3 separate regions of the Homo sapiens genome follow, and regions 1 and 3 are each linked to region 2. Evidence: fine-mapped expression QTL. A gene starts in region 2. Each other region holds a variant in brackets. All regions are shown on one strand. Distances are between the middles of the regions. Region 1 overlaps AADACL2-AS1 (AADACL2 antisense RNA 1). Region 2 holds the start of SUCNR1 (succinate receptor 1). Region 3 overlaps LOC107986047 (a long non-coding RNA gene).

What was found.
Region 1: its variant is fine-mapped to the expression of SUCNR1 in whole blood (TOPMed, PIP above 0.99).
Region 3: its variant is fine-mapped to the expression of SUCNR1 in whole blood (TOPMed, PIP above 0.99).

Annotation. Positions count from the first base shown.
Region 1 is chr3:151,914,846-151,919,845 of GRCh38, reverse strand. The region is part of intron 1 of AADACL2-AS1 (AADACL2 antisense RNA 1); the gene reads left to right. Among named protein-coding and RNA genes, the nearest start is that of AADACL2-AS1, 11 kb to the left of the region's middle. The variant G/A (reference allele first, on the strand shown) is at 3,068.
Region 2 is chr3:151,870,862-151,876,211 of GRCh38, reverse strand. SUCNR1 (succinate receptor 1) reads right to left here and starts at 2,569. Exons shown (of 3, transcript NM_033050.6): 1 at 2,506-2,569. The region is part of intron 1 of AADACL2-AS1 (AADACL2 antisense RNA 1); the gene reads left to right.
Region 3 is chr3:151,928,107-151,933,456 of GRCh38, reverse strand. LOC107986047 (a long non-coding RNA gene) reads left to right here. Exons shown (of 3, transcript XR_001740567.1): 2 at 1,011-1,132; 3 at 2,781-2,905. It overlaps AADACL2-AS1 (AADACL2 antisense RNA 1), which reads left to right and starts at 5,282. Exons shown (of 3, transcript NR_110203.1): 1 at 5,282-5,350. The variant C/G (reference allele first, on the strand shown) is at 2,969.

The DNA of each region.
Region 1 (5,000 bases), 44 kb before region 2:
TGAGCTATTTTATTATATTTTACATGTAACTCTATGTGAACAATTGGAGGAAGTACTGGTTTAGGCCAGTGGTTCTTAAAAAGTGGTCCCAGAACCAGTAGCATCGTCATCTGGGAACCTGCTAGAACATCAAGTCATTGGAACTCACCCAGAGCTACTGAATCAGAAACTCTGGGTATAGGCCCAGAAACGTGTGTTGACAAGACTTCCAGGGGACTCTGATCAGCGAACATGTGAACAGTAGGAGGTTTCAGCAAAAGGAAAGCTCAGGATAGAAACCTTGCACCAACATGGGCTGTCTTTTGGTGTGAACATATATAGACATGTTTTTGTGCTTCCCTGGGGGTGCTGAAGAAGGCTGATGAGAGCCAAGAACCAGCAGGCCTGGAATGGCCCACAATGGTGAGGAGTAAATGTGCCAAGAGCAGAAACTGCAAGTAATCTCTTAAACTATGGGCTGGTGGAGGAGAGCATGACTGAGACTCAAGGTGTATTAGTTTGTTCTCACACTGCTAATAAAGACATACCTTAGACTGGGTAATTTATAAAGGAAAGAGCTTCAATGGACTGACAGTTCAGCATAGCTGGGGAGCCTCACAATCATGGTGGAAGGCAAAGGAGAAGCAAAGGCATGCCTTACATAGTGGCAGGTAAAAGAGCTTATGCAGGGGATCTCCCATTTATAAAACCATCAGATTTCGTGAGACTTATTCATTACCACAAGAACAGTATGGGTGAAACTGCCCTCATGATTCAATTATCTCCATCTGGCCCCACCTTTGACACGTGGAGTTTATTACAAGTCAAGGTGAGATTTGGGTGGAGACACAGCCAAACCATATCACAAGGGGTTGGCAGCATCCGAAAGCGACAAGGAGGGGCCAAGGCAGCAACACGGTGGGCCACCCACCCAGTCTAGCAAAGAGCCAGCAGGCAGGGCTGGCCCAGCAAGCTTTCTGCTCTACTCAGGTGTTCTCCTGTGAGGTAGAAAGGGAAGCAGAGAAACAGCACTTACAAAGATGTTGAAGCTTACATTCTCTGAATATTTATATAATTTTCAGCTGCTTAATTTAGAAGAAGAAGTAACTGTCATACTATCTTCCTACGCAAACCCTGACCAGCTGAGAGTCCATGTATAAGCTACAGTTACATTTTTAAAAAAAGAAGAGAAACAATTTTACAAATCTGTATTAGTGCATATATTTCAACACAACAACATAAATCTACCTGATCCATTTCATTATTTGCTTATTTAGAAACTATTTCAGAATAAAAGATTATTATTTCAGATTCCCTTGTCAGATAGCCTGGAAAATGTGAAGACTGCTTAGGGTTTTGAAACATTCACTTTGAAGTCGTCAGAAATGTTGCAGTGACAATTTTAAAACCACTTGAGGGCAGTAAAAGCACATTTCTTAACTGTACATTGCAGATGATTTAACCATAACCTCCAAAATTAAAGACTTGGCCAGAATACCTTATCTGCATTTCTAACTTTGTCTAGAGTTATGCCCCCACCCCCATCTGCCAGGTTTATATTCCTAGTTTCTCAAATTTAAGTAGAACAAGAACAAAAATTTAAAGCACACATTCTGTTTTTGGTTTCTTTCATAAGCAATATTTTTGCTGTGGCTTATAATTGATGTATTTCAGAGACATGGCTCAATTAAGTCACAAGTTCAACTTCTTTACCTCAAATGTATGTATATTTCAACATCAATTCATATATGTGAGCATGAATGTTTGTGTGTGGATATGTGTGTGTTTACCCGGAGAGATTTGAGTATATAAATAAAAATAGTCGTTATCATTATAGTGAATAAGAAGAACTCTTTTGGGCACATTTATAAAGGTACTTTACTCTTTCCCATCACAGCCCTGCAAATCCACTGTCTTGGCATCTTCTTCATCACCACCTTGAAAAAAATCTTGGGCAAGTCCCATAAATTCTCAGAAATTAAAAGAAGAAAGGTTTCCTAGTTACCTTTCCCCCCTAAATTGTTTCATTTCAGTAATTAAATCACCTATCTCTGTGTAATACTTAAAATTGCTAACTTCACCTAAAGTTAAACTTCTTCCCTTTATTTTGTCTGCTTCCCACCAGAAGTCTGCAGTGGGGAGAAGTGGTGAGGTGGTCACACACATTCTGGTCCATGTCCCTACCAAGTTTCTACTCTTCTTCCCACAAGGCTGCCTCTGACTTGAGGGTTCAAGAGAAGAAGAGGAAAGAGGTAAAGAGCAGAAGGTGTTTTCTTTCACCAATACCTCTGCAATCTGACATTCATTTGGTGGGTTGGGGGGCACTGCGGCAGTAGTTCAAATCTGCCCATTTCTCTTGTGGTCATTTTTGAGGGCTTTTGTGAGCTGTGTGACTGCACAACCAGGTCAGGGCCAACTTCATGGGTGTGAGCCCTATGTAGAATCTCAGGACCACAGGCTTAGAGGGGTCCCAGGCTTGGTTTAATGCTCTGTTGTTGCCTCTGCATTTTTAAAATAATTTTTGATCAAGAGACCCTGCATTTTCATTTTTCACTGGGCCCCAGAAATTATACAGCTGGTTTTGACTGAGCCCCTTCAACAGCAGCTTTACTGCAGGACAGTGCTTCTTTTTCAGCTGATAATTTATAATCTCCCTCTGCCTCTCGGGTCAGATTTTGCCCCTAGCAGGAACCCCCTTGGACAGGGTCCCATGAATAAAGATCACACACCAATGTCTGTCCTTAGGTTTTTTGCTCCAGAAAAGCAAACACTTGTTGGGAGCATGGCTATTATAAAACTCTCTCTGCTAGAGTCAGAAGTCATCTCAGCCAACTCTCTCCAGTCACTTTCTTCTCAGACATGAATCAGGTAATTTGATTGTGTTCCTAAGCAACACCAGACCCATGTAGGCTCTCCACTTAGTCTTTGAAGTGGAGTTTAGTCCTCTCACTGGGCTTGAGTGAGGTGGAGCATCATATCTTCCTCCTCCAGATAACTGTCAAAAACCAATTCTTTCCCTAACTCCCTGGCATCTTCAAACTTAACTCTTTTGTACCCATAAGGTGGGTGAGAAGCTAATGGTCAAAAC[G/A]TCAATTTTGGGCCCCTCCTATTTTAGGTCTGTACAGGGAGTTTAGCCTCACTTTGGAAGTTGCAAGTTCTTGCTCTCTTTGTTTTGTTCTCAGCCTTTAGGAAACTCTATAGAAACGGAGACAGAAAGAGTCTCAATATAATGCCCAATGACATCATTTATAGGGAAAACTTTTACTCGGCATTAGATATTTTGAAATTTAAATATTTATTTGAAGAACATTTTAAATATCCTCAATTCCCTTAATACATTAATATCTTCATTAGTAGAAGGGATCAATTCAACAAATATTTTGAGCATCTCCTTTGTGCAGGAATCAGTAATAAGTTGAGCTAATATGCAAATTAGCAAGAGAGCCTCCACATTCTTGAGGAGTTCACAGTTAGAAACTGAAAACACAAAGACAATTTCCTAAAGATGAGTAATAATAAAGTCGTGTACAAATGCAATAAGATCACAGGAAAGAGAGCAAATACAACTCTGGAAAAAAGAGAACATTTCACCAGAACTAAAATTAGATTTGGATTATAAAAAGATAGGAAGATGGTGGGCAGAATGTGGAGAATAATTTCGAAGCTAGAGGCAGTAATTTGTTCAAAGGCTATTGCGATAATCCAGGTAATATTATGAGGGCCTAAACTAAATCAGGGTCTCTTGGGGAAAAAGAAAAGAAGCATAAGTAGGTGGTAGAAATGAGAGAAATTATTGGCTTATTAAATGAGGAAGAAAAAGGAGCTGAAAAATAATTCTAGGAAAAAACAATCTCAAAATACCATCTTGCAGAAGATGGAGTATTAAATATAAAAATAATAGAGTATTAGAATGTATCATTTTTGTATATAAGTACATGTTAATTCATTTTAATTCAATTATGAAACAGTAGAAGTATGCTTTTTAAGATTGAGCATTTGTTTTATATAATATAGCCAATGTTGGATGTGGTAACTAGCCTGCTCTTTGCAAAATCTTATTGCTTAAATTTCCAGGAACATCATGTAGACAGGTAAGTCGATTTTAGCAAAATCCAACAAAGAAACTACTTTATGTCCAAAACTGCAATATAGTTTGTGCAAAAGTAATTTAATTAAGTTCAGAAAATGTTTACTGTATGCTGTGTGAGTTGCTGGTGGGAAAGTAAATGATGCAACTACTTTGGATGACTTTGGGAAGTTTTCAGTAAAGAGAAACATATACTTATCCTATTTCAGGAGAAATGAGAACACATCTGCTAAAAGATCAGAGTGTTTACTGAAGCTTTATTCACAATAACCAAAAACTAGATTGGATAATAAACCAGATCATGAACAATGCATTGTTTTGTTAGCATACAATGTGTATTAGTCCGTTCTCACGTTGCTATAAAAAACTACCTGAGACTGGGTAATTTATGAAGAGAAGAGGTTTGATTGACTCACAGTTCCACAGGCTTAACAGGAAGCATGATTGGGAGGCCTCAGGAAACTTACAATCATGACAGAAGGCAAAGGGGAAGCAAGCACCTTCTTCCCATGGCAGCAAGACAGTGAGAGAGCAAGTGGAGAACTGCCACACACTTTAAAACCATCAGATCTCATGAGAACTCACTATCATGAGAACATCATGAGGGAAACCGCCCTCATGATCCAGTTACCTCACACCAGGTTCCTCCACCTGACACATGGGGATGACAATTAGAGATGAGATTTGGGTGGGGACACAGAGCCAAACAATACCACAATGGATCACTATATAACAACAAAAGTGAACAAACTTGTTACGTGTAACAACATGGACACGAACATCATAGATATTATGTTGTGTGAATGACATTTAGGCACAAAAGAGTAAAGACTATATAACAGAACCTTCAATATGAGGTTCAAGAACAAGTAACACTAATAAATGATGTATTGATTTTCTATTGCTGTAGTAACAAATTAAATGTAGTGATTTT
Region 2 (5,350 bases):
TTTGCCCAAGTTTTAAATGTTGGACCTTCTCAGGCCTTATTTCTGAGCTCTTGTTATTTTGTGGGTACTCAAAAAGCTGGTGCACAAATTCAAATGAAAATTAAGGTATAGAAAGTTTCCTTGACACAAGAAATTTGTTTCACTTTTGCATTTCCTTTTTTTCTGGTCATAACGTTTATCTTTCTGCCTAGTCACCACTGGTAATGTTAATAGCTTATGTATTGTGCACAGCAGAAAGATTTGACTGCAATGGAAGGAAAATATAGCCACAAAGACTTGTGCAACTAGAGCCTGATTTCCTGCAACTATCACTCAGGCAGGTGACGGGTCACATGAAAGTCAAGGAGCATTCTGCTTTATAGTAGCCCAGAAGGTCGGGGATTGAAGGAGTAGTAGGGAAGGAGTAGAGCTGAAATAAGAGAAATGAATGACTAAATTATCATATTTGTCTTTCTTCTCATACAGTTGTTTCTTCATTTTTTTGAAACAACTTTTTAAAAATGTATGTGTAAAATTATTGTTAAGGTGTAACACTCATAAAATCAAATAGGCAAAAATAAGAAATAAAAATGGTCTGTAAACAGACCACTCCTAATATTTGGGTACCCTTTTACATTTTAATATTTACCTGAATTTTTATTCATAAAAATGAGATTTTTTTATGATGTTTTATAATTTTTTGATACATTTGTTTCATTTTTTCTAAGTTCATAATTCTAATAGATTATGATTTTATAAATATGAGCTGTGCAATATTTGCAGACCAATTTAACTTCACTAGGATACAAAATTTTGAAGATACTATATTTCAAATTGGATATGTTTATAGTTGGGTATGTTTTTAGTGTGGCATCGCAATTCTATAAACATATGAAGTAAGTTGCTCCTTTAAGCAAAACTCCCAATTAAAGAGAAAATTCCCTCATGAAAAATTCATATTCTCTCTTCTGCTATCTAGTGGCTATATTCTTAATTTTTAGGAAATGGAAATAGTGATAAATAAATTGTAACTGATTTGGATGAATTATTTTGAATAGGTATTTTTTAAGAGCAGAAATTAAAGTGAAATCTTTAGTTTCCAGTCCAAAAATATATCTAAAACTGTTAGAATTATTGAACTAGAAGCAATATCTAATTTACTCACATAAGCAGACCAATAATACTTAACTTGAAAATGTTTTTTACTTTAAATATATTCAGCCTTTTGAAAATCTGCATTTTTGAAATTTACTTTAAAATATATATGTGATAGTTTCTTAGCTTTTTAATTGTTTGTTTTTATAGTCATCACAATTAAACAAATAACATTTGTAAAATGTTTACTTTTAAGTGCTACCTTAAGGCAAATTTACATGGTAACATGAGAATTTTTTTTAACAAATTACTTTTTTGATTACTAAATAATTTGAGCAAAAATATATATTCACACTGAAAAGATATAATAATTTAACATTTGTAACTTTATTTTTATGTATTCCATACATTACACCAGAAATTAAGGTATTAAAAAGTAATAGTATGGCACAAATTGTGTATTAACTTCTTTAAGAATACCACACACATTTTGAAAAGTTATGGAAGGTAGAATAGAAATGGTTTCTGCAATTTTTCATTTTTCCTAAGTAAATTAATTATTGGGTAATATCATTTTTACACACATAAATGTTAAATTTAATTTTTAGGATGCCTGAAAATTCCCCCAAATACATTATTTTCTAAACATAAAAATATTATGCCCCAGCACAGTGGCTCATGCCTGGAATCCCAACACTTGGAGAGGCCGAGATGAGTGGATCACCTGAGGTCAGGAGTTTGAGACCAACCTGACCAACATGGTGAAACTCCATCTCTACTAAAAAATCCAAAAAAAATAGCCGGGCGTGGTGGTGGGCGCTTGTAATCCTAGCTACTCTGCAGGCTGAGGCAGGAGAATTGCTTGAACCCCAGAGGCGGAGGTTGCAGTGAGCCAACACATGCTGTAAATGTGTCACTCTGGCACTCAGACACTCTAGCCTGGGTGACAAGAGTGAAACTCTGTCTTAAAAAAAAAAAAAAAAAAAAAAAATATATATATATATATATATATGTATGTATATGTGTGTGTGTGTGTGTGTGTGTGTGTGTGTGTATGTATCAAATACATGATTGTTTCAAATCATTTAGGAACTTTAATTTTTCCCCATAAGTAGTTATATTTATTTAGGTAAATCCAATTACTATTTTGTTGAAATATAAGTTGTTGAGATGTTAGCAAATATAATAAATCCTTTTACATAAAATAAAATTAGTATTTGACAACTAAAAGAAGACAGTTAATTTGTTGAAAAATAAACGTAGAGATAAAAATGACTTTTTTTTTTCAATTATTTTGCTGTTTTACATCTATTTATAAAGAATTAATTTAAACACTTAATACTGAAAACCTTAATTGCTCACAGGTCACCTTTAGAAGGAAATCTGGCCTTACTTTATACACTGAGAGGCACAATTTGCCATGTAGCTTACCATTCTGTTGGAAGACTTGATCCCTTGACAGGAACTCTGCCAGCAGCTGGATATAGCTTCTGACCCAGTGTTGTGCCACTGGACATGGTTATTACAGTGTCCTATTTGCATATCCTATTTGCATATCCTGCAGCCAAGATTAATAATTCAAAAGCCCAGGAATAATTTATTCAGTCAAACCTCCCAGTCAGAGATGTTCATGCAGAGGAATTTTTGTGAGGCTTTTATTTTCACATTCACATTTATTTTATTTTCACATGCAGTTTTGCAATTGAATGACAAAAAACAAGTAACTCATTTCACAGGAAACACATTTACCAAATAGATTTTTAGAAAAACACTGTTGAACTTATTTTATCCACTACCAAAGCAACAGAGAAGCATTCCTTATTTTCATTTTATTTGCATATTTACACAATAAGAAGTGGTAAATACTGCTTATATTGGGAATACAGTTGCCTCTGCTTTTCTTCTTTTTTAAAATTAATTTTCTTAGTGAATTCTGTATTGAGAATATAATAACGAAACCTCTGTTTTCAATAACTTTGAGGGAACTATAAAACTGAAATTTTAAAGGGAAACCTGGATATATGCTATGTTGGTGTACTAGCAAAAAGATACTAGAGCTTCAAGTTATTTTCCATTTTATTTTCTGTGCTTAAAATCAAGAAACACATAAAAGATACATCAGATAGCTAGGGATTAGGGAGAGAGATGCTAAGTAAAATAACCTTAATAGATGGCAATTTATATATCCCAATCAATGCTCTGAAAAACATCTGGAAGTACATTACCACCATTTCAGACAGGAAGCACACCTGGCTTTTTCCAAGCATTATATTAGGTTTAGATTCAAGTAAACACTCAGTCTTCTTGATGTGAAGCATAGGGATTATACTAAGAAAGCCCATAATTGTGCAGGCAGCAGTAATTCAATTTAAATGCTATGTAAGTTGAATATTGAGTTAGCAATGACAGGCAGAAGCCCAAAAAGAAGCTCTGTTACAGGCATCCTCCTAACTAAGCATTTCTCCTCACCAATATCTGACAGCTTAAAAACTCAGGAACTCAAAATATATGTATGTATATATACACATACATATATACATACATATGTGTCTATATTACACACTTTATATACATGTGTAAAATATATTTATACATGTATGAATATTTATGTATACAAACATGTGCATTTACATGAAATAAAAATATCTATAATTTGTTGAGTTCTTGTGATGTGGCAGGCAGGTATTACACTAAGTACCTTTATGCATCAAATGCATATAGTAATCCTCTGAGGTTGTTATTATTTAAGATTTTTCTCATTTTGCAGATTAAAAAGCTAAGGTTCAGAGAGGTCAATTAACTTTCTCAAGATTGCAGAATCAATAACGGGAGGGACCAGAGCTTAAGCCTATGTACTTGGATTCTAAAAGCACCGACTCTGATTCTTGACTGCCTACAGAATTGAATGACAATACCCTTGTGCACAACAAAGTCTAAGAATTAATAACAGGTATTTTTCAGTAATGCAATTCTTTTCTACTTTTAGAAGGAAGAAAGGTTAAAACATTATTTTTGTCTATATTTTTAAAAGGGCAAAAAGCATTTGAATAACCAATGCCAGGCTTGTTAATTTTAGACATAAATTAACATGAACCCCTTCCAAGAAACAAAGACAAATGGATGTATTTCACAGGTTTCTGCCACCATTCTGATGGAAGAAAAGAGTAATTCCCCCTTTGTGGGGTGGTGGGAGTTCCCGAGAGCTTCCTCTTTCTTCGTCCCACTTCCTGACTACCATCTCACTCTGGCTGCTAAGACAAAAATTGGTCTATGCTTCTCCTTTTTCATAGAACACGTCATCTAGACTGTAGCCTGGTAGCCTTGTTTCCCTCCCAAGTCCTACTTCCTGTTTCCTCCGAATGCTCTCAGTTGAGATACTAGAGTGTTACTGGGAAAGACTTACTAAAAGGTCACGAGTATTTCTGCTACAAAGCTTTATGCAGGTCTGCAAAATGATAGCTGCACGGGAACAAGGCTGGATTCAGAATTATGACCCTGTGAGCAGGGTGGGTTTCATGGTATGCTACTGTGTAGTCTCACAGTGCTTCACACTCAAAAAAGATCACACAGTTGAGTTAATGCTCTACTGTCACATTCTTAATTAAAATGTTTCATAACTTCTTAACAAGGGACCCCATATATTTCTTTTGCACTGGGCTCTACTAAATATGTAGCCAGTTCTGCCTGTGAGAGTAGAAACCTCCTCAGAAACTATTTCTATTCAGTATAGCACATCAAATTTTGAGGGGGCAAAGTTTTTTTGTTTTGTCTTTTTTTTTTTTTTACATATAACATGTTGAGATGCACTGCTTGAGAATCAATGGAAGTTTGAAAGGCAGTGAAAGTTTGCAGTACTGGCCGGGCATGGTGACTCACACCTGTAATTTCAGTACTTTGGGAGACCAAGGCAGGCGGATCACTTGAGTCCAAGAATTGGAGACCAGCCTGGGCAAAGTGGCAAAACTCTGTCTCTACAAAAAATGCAAAAATTAGCTGGGGCATGGTGGTGCGTGCCTTTAGTTTCAGCTACTCGGGAGGCTTGAGGATGGCCTGAACCTGGGGAGGCCGAGGCTGCAGTGAGCCATGATTGTGCCACTGCCCTCCAACCTGGGAGACAGAGTGAGACCCTGTCTCAAAAAAAAAAAAAGTTAAGTACAACAATGAACACTTTTTAAAATATATATTTTTTAAAAGCTTGTAGTACTGTTTGCTAAGAGGTAGTATAACACAGTGTTTAAGAGCATAGGTCCTGGAGGCAAACTGCTTTGTTTCAAAT
Region 3 (5,350 bases), 57 kb before region 2:
CTTTTCTCCAGGGCTTTATTTTGTAGTGTTGATGACTCAGCAAATGATTATTATCACTTTCCTCTGTAAAATGAAGGATGACAATCCTTACGTTCTCTTATGCATTTCTAAAGATGAATTGATTGCGTAAAACAAAATGCTTTAAAATTTAATTTTATGCTTTTCTAATTAATTAAAGGGGTACTTTAAAAATAATGGAAAAAAACCTGGCTTAAGGTATCAGAACAATAACATATTCTTCATATGGGCTCAGAATGAATTGGCTTGACTTTGCAAAAGTCAAGGGATTTTTTCTGCCAGTGCTGAGTTCGTTCACCTTCTTAATCTTGGTTTGAAATGTGCAATATTATGTGTAGAGTGGAGACTGGGGATCCCAGAACAGAACAGAATATCCCTTTGAGTTTTTTTTTTTCTTTTTTTTTTAAATTTTGCTCTGTCACCCAGGCTGGAGTGCAGTGGCGCAATCTTGGCTCACTGCAACCTCTGCCTCACAGGTTCAAGCGGTTATCCTGCCTCAGCCTCCCTATAGCAGGGATTACAGGTACGTGCCACCATGCCTGGCTAATGTTTGTATTTTTAGTAGAGACGGGGTTTCACCATATTGGCCAGGCTGGTCTTGAACTCCTGATCTTAAGTGATCCACCCGCCTTGGCCTCCCAAAGTGCTGAAATTATAGGCGTTAGCCACCGTGCCCGGCCCTTTGAGATTTAATATAAAGAATTAAAGATTAATATTAAGACTTGCCTTAGAGTGACTCATGGATTCAATAGTCGTCTCCTTCTAAAATAAAATAACCCTAGGTTTTTTAGAGGGAAATGATTAGAGGTTCTGACTAACCAAGTTTCAATTCAAAAGGGCCAAAATTTACTTTTTAACCTCAAGCCAAATGAACTTCTTGAATCTCAGCCGATTTTATTTTATAACTGGAAAGTACCGGGACCACCCTGAAAAAACAGATGATAATTTGCCTTTAAAGAAAAAAGGTTTATTAAATAAATATTGATTTCCAGGAGAAAAGCTCAAGACACAGATGTCCACACCCAACAACTAGCTAATCTACTTTAAATGCCAAAGATGAATACAAAAAAAGAAAAAGAAAAAGAAACTACAACTTTTATCTGCAATTTGACAGGTACATGAAATACTTTGACCAAATTTTAGTTGCCTGGAGCTTAGGTTCCAAATGCTTTACTTCTTTAGTTTAAAATATTTAATGAATTTTTAATTAAAATATTTGAATATAAAGTGCTATTTAAATAATTTTTTTTAGTGTTCTCATTCTCCTTTCCCTATGACTAATGATTGAGGAAATAGTCATTTTCACTCAAATATTATTTGAAGCTAGTTGTCTCCTTTACCTCAAAAATTAGCATTAACACTGCTGACTATTCACACCTTTTTCTTGTCATTTTTCATTAAGAACATTTAGCCTGAGAAGGCACAAGAGAAAATGTAAGATGATCTGCAGAGTGTTTGTACTTCAAGTTGATGTGTAATCTTTTCAAATGTTTTAATGTTAATATGTAAATAAATAATTCCCTGCATACATTTACTAATTTACATCAGAATATTTTAGAATTTTATTCTATGAAGCTGATTTGTTTATGCAGTGTTGTGAAATTGGTATTAATATACTAATGAGTAAGACCTAGTATGTACTGACTGATTGCTCCTATTGGTAAATTTTATATTTGGGGAAAATATAGTCAGGTGAAATACGTTTTGATAATAAGGTTGAGTTTTTCTCAGAAAATTAAAACAATGTTATCGAAAGATTTACTTACAAAACACCTTATTATCCAGATGTCAGATCCATAAATACTATAGAGATGTGAAAGTTATTCCCCTTACTCCCTAATAATGAAGGACCCCTCAGTAACTATGTAGTTGGTTATCTTTTTAAAGGGTTGAGTGGCAAGAATTGTCAGTGAATGTTGACTTCATTTTTCTCACTTTGCTTTCGGTGATAAGATGCCTTTTAAAGCAAACACTATTCAAAATTTGAGACAGAGTAAAATTATTAAGTCTGGTCTTCCAAATCATGTTCTCTCTATGAAAATATAGAGTCACAGGACTCCTGGCCCTGTGTTTTTATGAGTCATAGGATTTCTATGGTGAAAAATAAAAGATGAATAAACCTAAGATCTGAGAAAAATAAAAAGAACCCCTTCAATACAATGTTATGTCATGACCAGGCTCTCTGTTTTTGATATATGTATGTGTGTGTTTATAAAGAAAATTTTTCAAAAAATTATTTTGTCTCATCTTCAGAGCTTCTTGGGTTTGTAAAAAATTAGATTAGAGGAAGTAGCTGGCAAGTTAGGCATTAGAAACCAAAGCCTGCCAGTGCCAGACCAGGCATGGTGGCTCACACCTGTAATCCCAGCACTTTGGGCGAAGGTGAGAGGATCACTTGAGGCCAGGAGTTTGAGATCAGCCTAGGCAACACAGCATGACCTTGTATCTATAAAATATTAAATGAAAAAATATTTCCAGGTGTGGTGGTGCACGCCTGTAGTGCTAGCTACTGGGGAGGCTGAAGCAGGAGAATTGTTTCAGGAGTTTGAGGCTGCAGTGAGCTATGGCCATGCCACTGCACTCCAGCCTGGTTGACACAACAAAACCCTAGCCCTTAATTAAAAAAAAAACAAAAAAACAAAAAAGCCTGCCAGATGATGCCTATGATTTCAATGAAAATGACAACAGGAGTAACCTTAATGATGCAGAAACAATACAGTCCTGGCTTACCAAGTGCTCTTGTATCCACTTTGCTTTAACAGAGCAAATTTTTATGAATGAATCCAGATGGCTACTCCAGTTGCCTTCCAGCATATGGACAAAGGTGAGAGTGATTTTTTCTGATATGATATTCTGCTTTCTAGTTGGTGACAAATATTTTACCCCTTGAGATGAATTTTAAAATCTTTCCCTTGGCCAGGTGCGGTGGCTCACGCCTGTAATCCTAGCA[C/G]TTTGGGAGGCCGAGGTGGGCAGATTGACTGAGTTCAGGAGTTTGAGACCAGCCTGGGCAACACGGTGAAACTCCATTTCTACTAAAAAAGAAAAAATTAGCCAGGCGTGGCGGCGTGCACTGATAGTGCCAGCTACTCGGGAGGCTGAAGCAGGAGAATTGCGAGACTCCATTTCCAAAACAAACAAACAAACAAACAAACAAAAAAACCCATTTCCCTTTCTGGATCAGAGCACAAATGATACAATTTTTAAAAAATACCTTGGTTTTCTTTCTTGTCTGTTTGCACAAACCTGCTTTCAACCTCATGATTGTTTCTTCCAATTGAGATCTGATTGGCAAAGCCACAGACTAAGCCACCTAGTCTCCCCCTTTGATACTGTCATGTTTTAGTTAGAGAATATCAAAAAAGAAGGGACCTTAAGATCACTTGGTCCAACCCCTCATTTGTAAGACAATGAAACAGGAGCAGAGAGGTGAAGGGTCCTGTTCAAGGTAACATGGCAAAGTAGTAACAGGTTTGGTTTAGATGTAGCAGAGGGGCTCTTTCTTCTACATTCTTTGGGTTGTGCAGCTTCTTCCTTTTTTTTAACTGTTTATTATATAAATGTTGTTTAAAAGTGGCCATTTTTTCCTTTTCTAACTGAATAATATAAACATGATATGTTAGGCTGATATCACTGGTGGTGGTGGCTGCCTATCACATGCAGTCCCTTCCTTTCTTGGGCAAGGAATGGGGTAAGGAATTATCCATTACTTTCGGTGTCCACAAAAGTAAGAAATGATGGGCGCTTGCTTTTGCAGATTTTGCAGTACCGAGGATAAAGGCATATAACCTGCCAGGAAATCCACTCTAGAGCAAGTGATGCAAAGATACAGGGACAAAGGAGATTTTTGTCCCAGTGCAGGTAGCAGAGACAAGAGTTCCAGAGTCTGAACAGTGCTGGTGACAGCGCTAATGACAGGCAATGTCCGGGGTTGGTAGGGGCAATACCTGGTATTCTGCAGTGCGGCCATAATGTTTCCGGAATTGGTGGGTTCTTGGTCTCACTGACTTCGAGAATAAAGCCGCGGACCCTCGCGGTGAGTGTTACAGCTCTTCAGGTGGCGCATCTGCGTCTGGAGTTTGTTCCTTCTGATGTTCGGATGTGTTCGGAGTTTCTTCCTTCTGGTGGGTTCTGTGGTCTCGCTGGCTCAGGAGTGAAGCTGCAGACCTTCGCGGTGAGTGTCACAGCTCATAAAGGCAGTGCGGCCCCAAAGACTGAGCAGCAGCAAGATTTATTGCAAAGAGTGAAAGAACAAAGCTTCCACAGTGTGGAAGGGGACCCGAGCGGGTTGCCACTGCTGGATGGGGCAACCTGCTTTTATTCTCTTATCTGGCCCCACCCACATCCTGCTGATTGGTAGAGCCCAGTGGTCTGTTTTGACAGGGCGCTGATTTGGTGCGTTTACAATCCCTGAGCTAGACACAAAGGTTCTACACGTCCCCACCAGATTAGCTAGATACAGAGTGTCCACGCAAAGGTTCTCCAAGGCCCCACCAGAGTAGCTAGATGCAGAGTGTCGATTGGTGCATTCACAAACCCTGAGCTAGACACAGGGTGCTGATTGGTGTGTTTACAAACTCTGAGCTAGACACAGAGTGCAGATTGGTGTATTTACAATCCCTGAGCTAGACACAAAGGTTCTCCAAGGCCCCACCAGAGTAGCTAGACACAGAGTGTTGATTGGTGCATTCACAAACCCTGAGCTAGACACAGGGTGCTGATTGGTGTGTTTACAAACCTTGAGCTAGATACAGAGTGCTGATTGGTGTATTTACAATCCCGGAGCTAGACATAAAGGTTCTCCACGTCCCCACCAGACTCAGGAGCCCAGCTGGCTTCACCCAGTGGATCCCGCACCGGAGCTGCAGGTGGAGCTGCCTGCCAGTCCCGCGCCGTGCGCTCGCACTCCTCAGCCCTTGGGTGGTCGATGGGACTGGGCGCCGTGGAGCAGGGGGTGGCACTTGTCTGGGAGGCTCGGGGCCGCACAGGAGCCCATGGAGGGGGTGGGAGGCTCAGGCATGGCGGGCTGCCGGTCCCGAGCCCTGCCCTGCGGGAAGGCAGGTAAGGCCCGGTGAGAAATCGAGCGCAGCGCCGGTGGGCTGGCACTGCCGGGGAACCCAGTACACCCTCCGCAGCCGCTGGCCCGGGTGCTAAGCCCCTCATTGCCCGGGGTCGGCGGGGCCCGCCCGCTGCTCCGGGGGCGGGGCCCGCCAAGCCCACGCCCACCCGGAACTCCAGATGGCCCGCAAGCGCCGCGCGCAGCGCCGGTTCCCGCTCGCGCCTCTCCCTCCACACCTCCCTGCAAGCTGAGGGAGTGGACTCTGGCCTTGGCCAG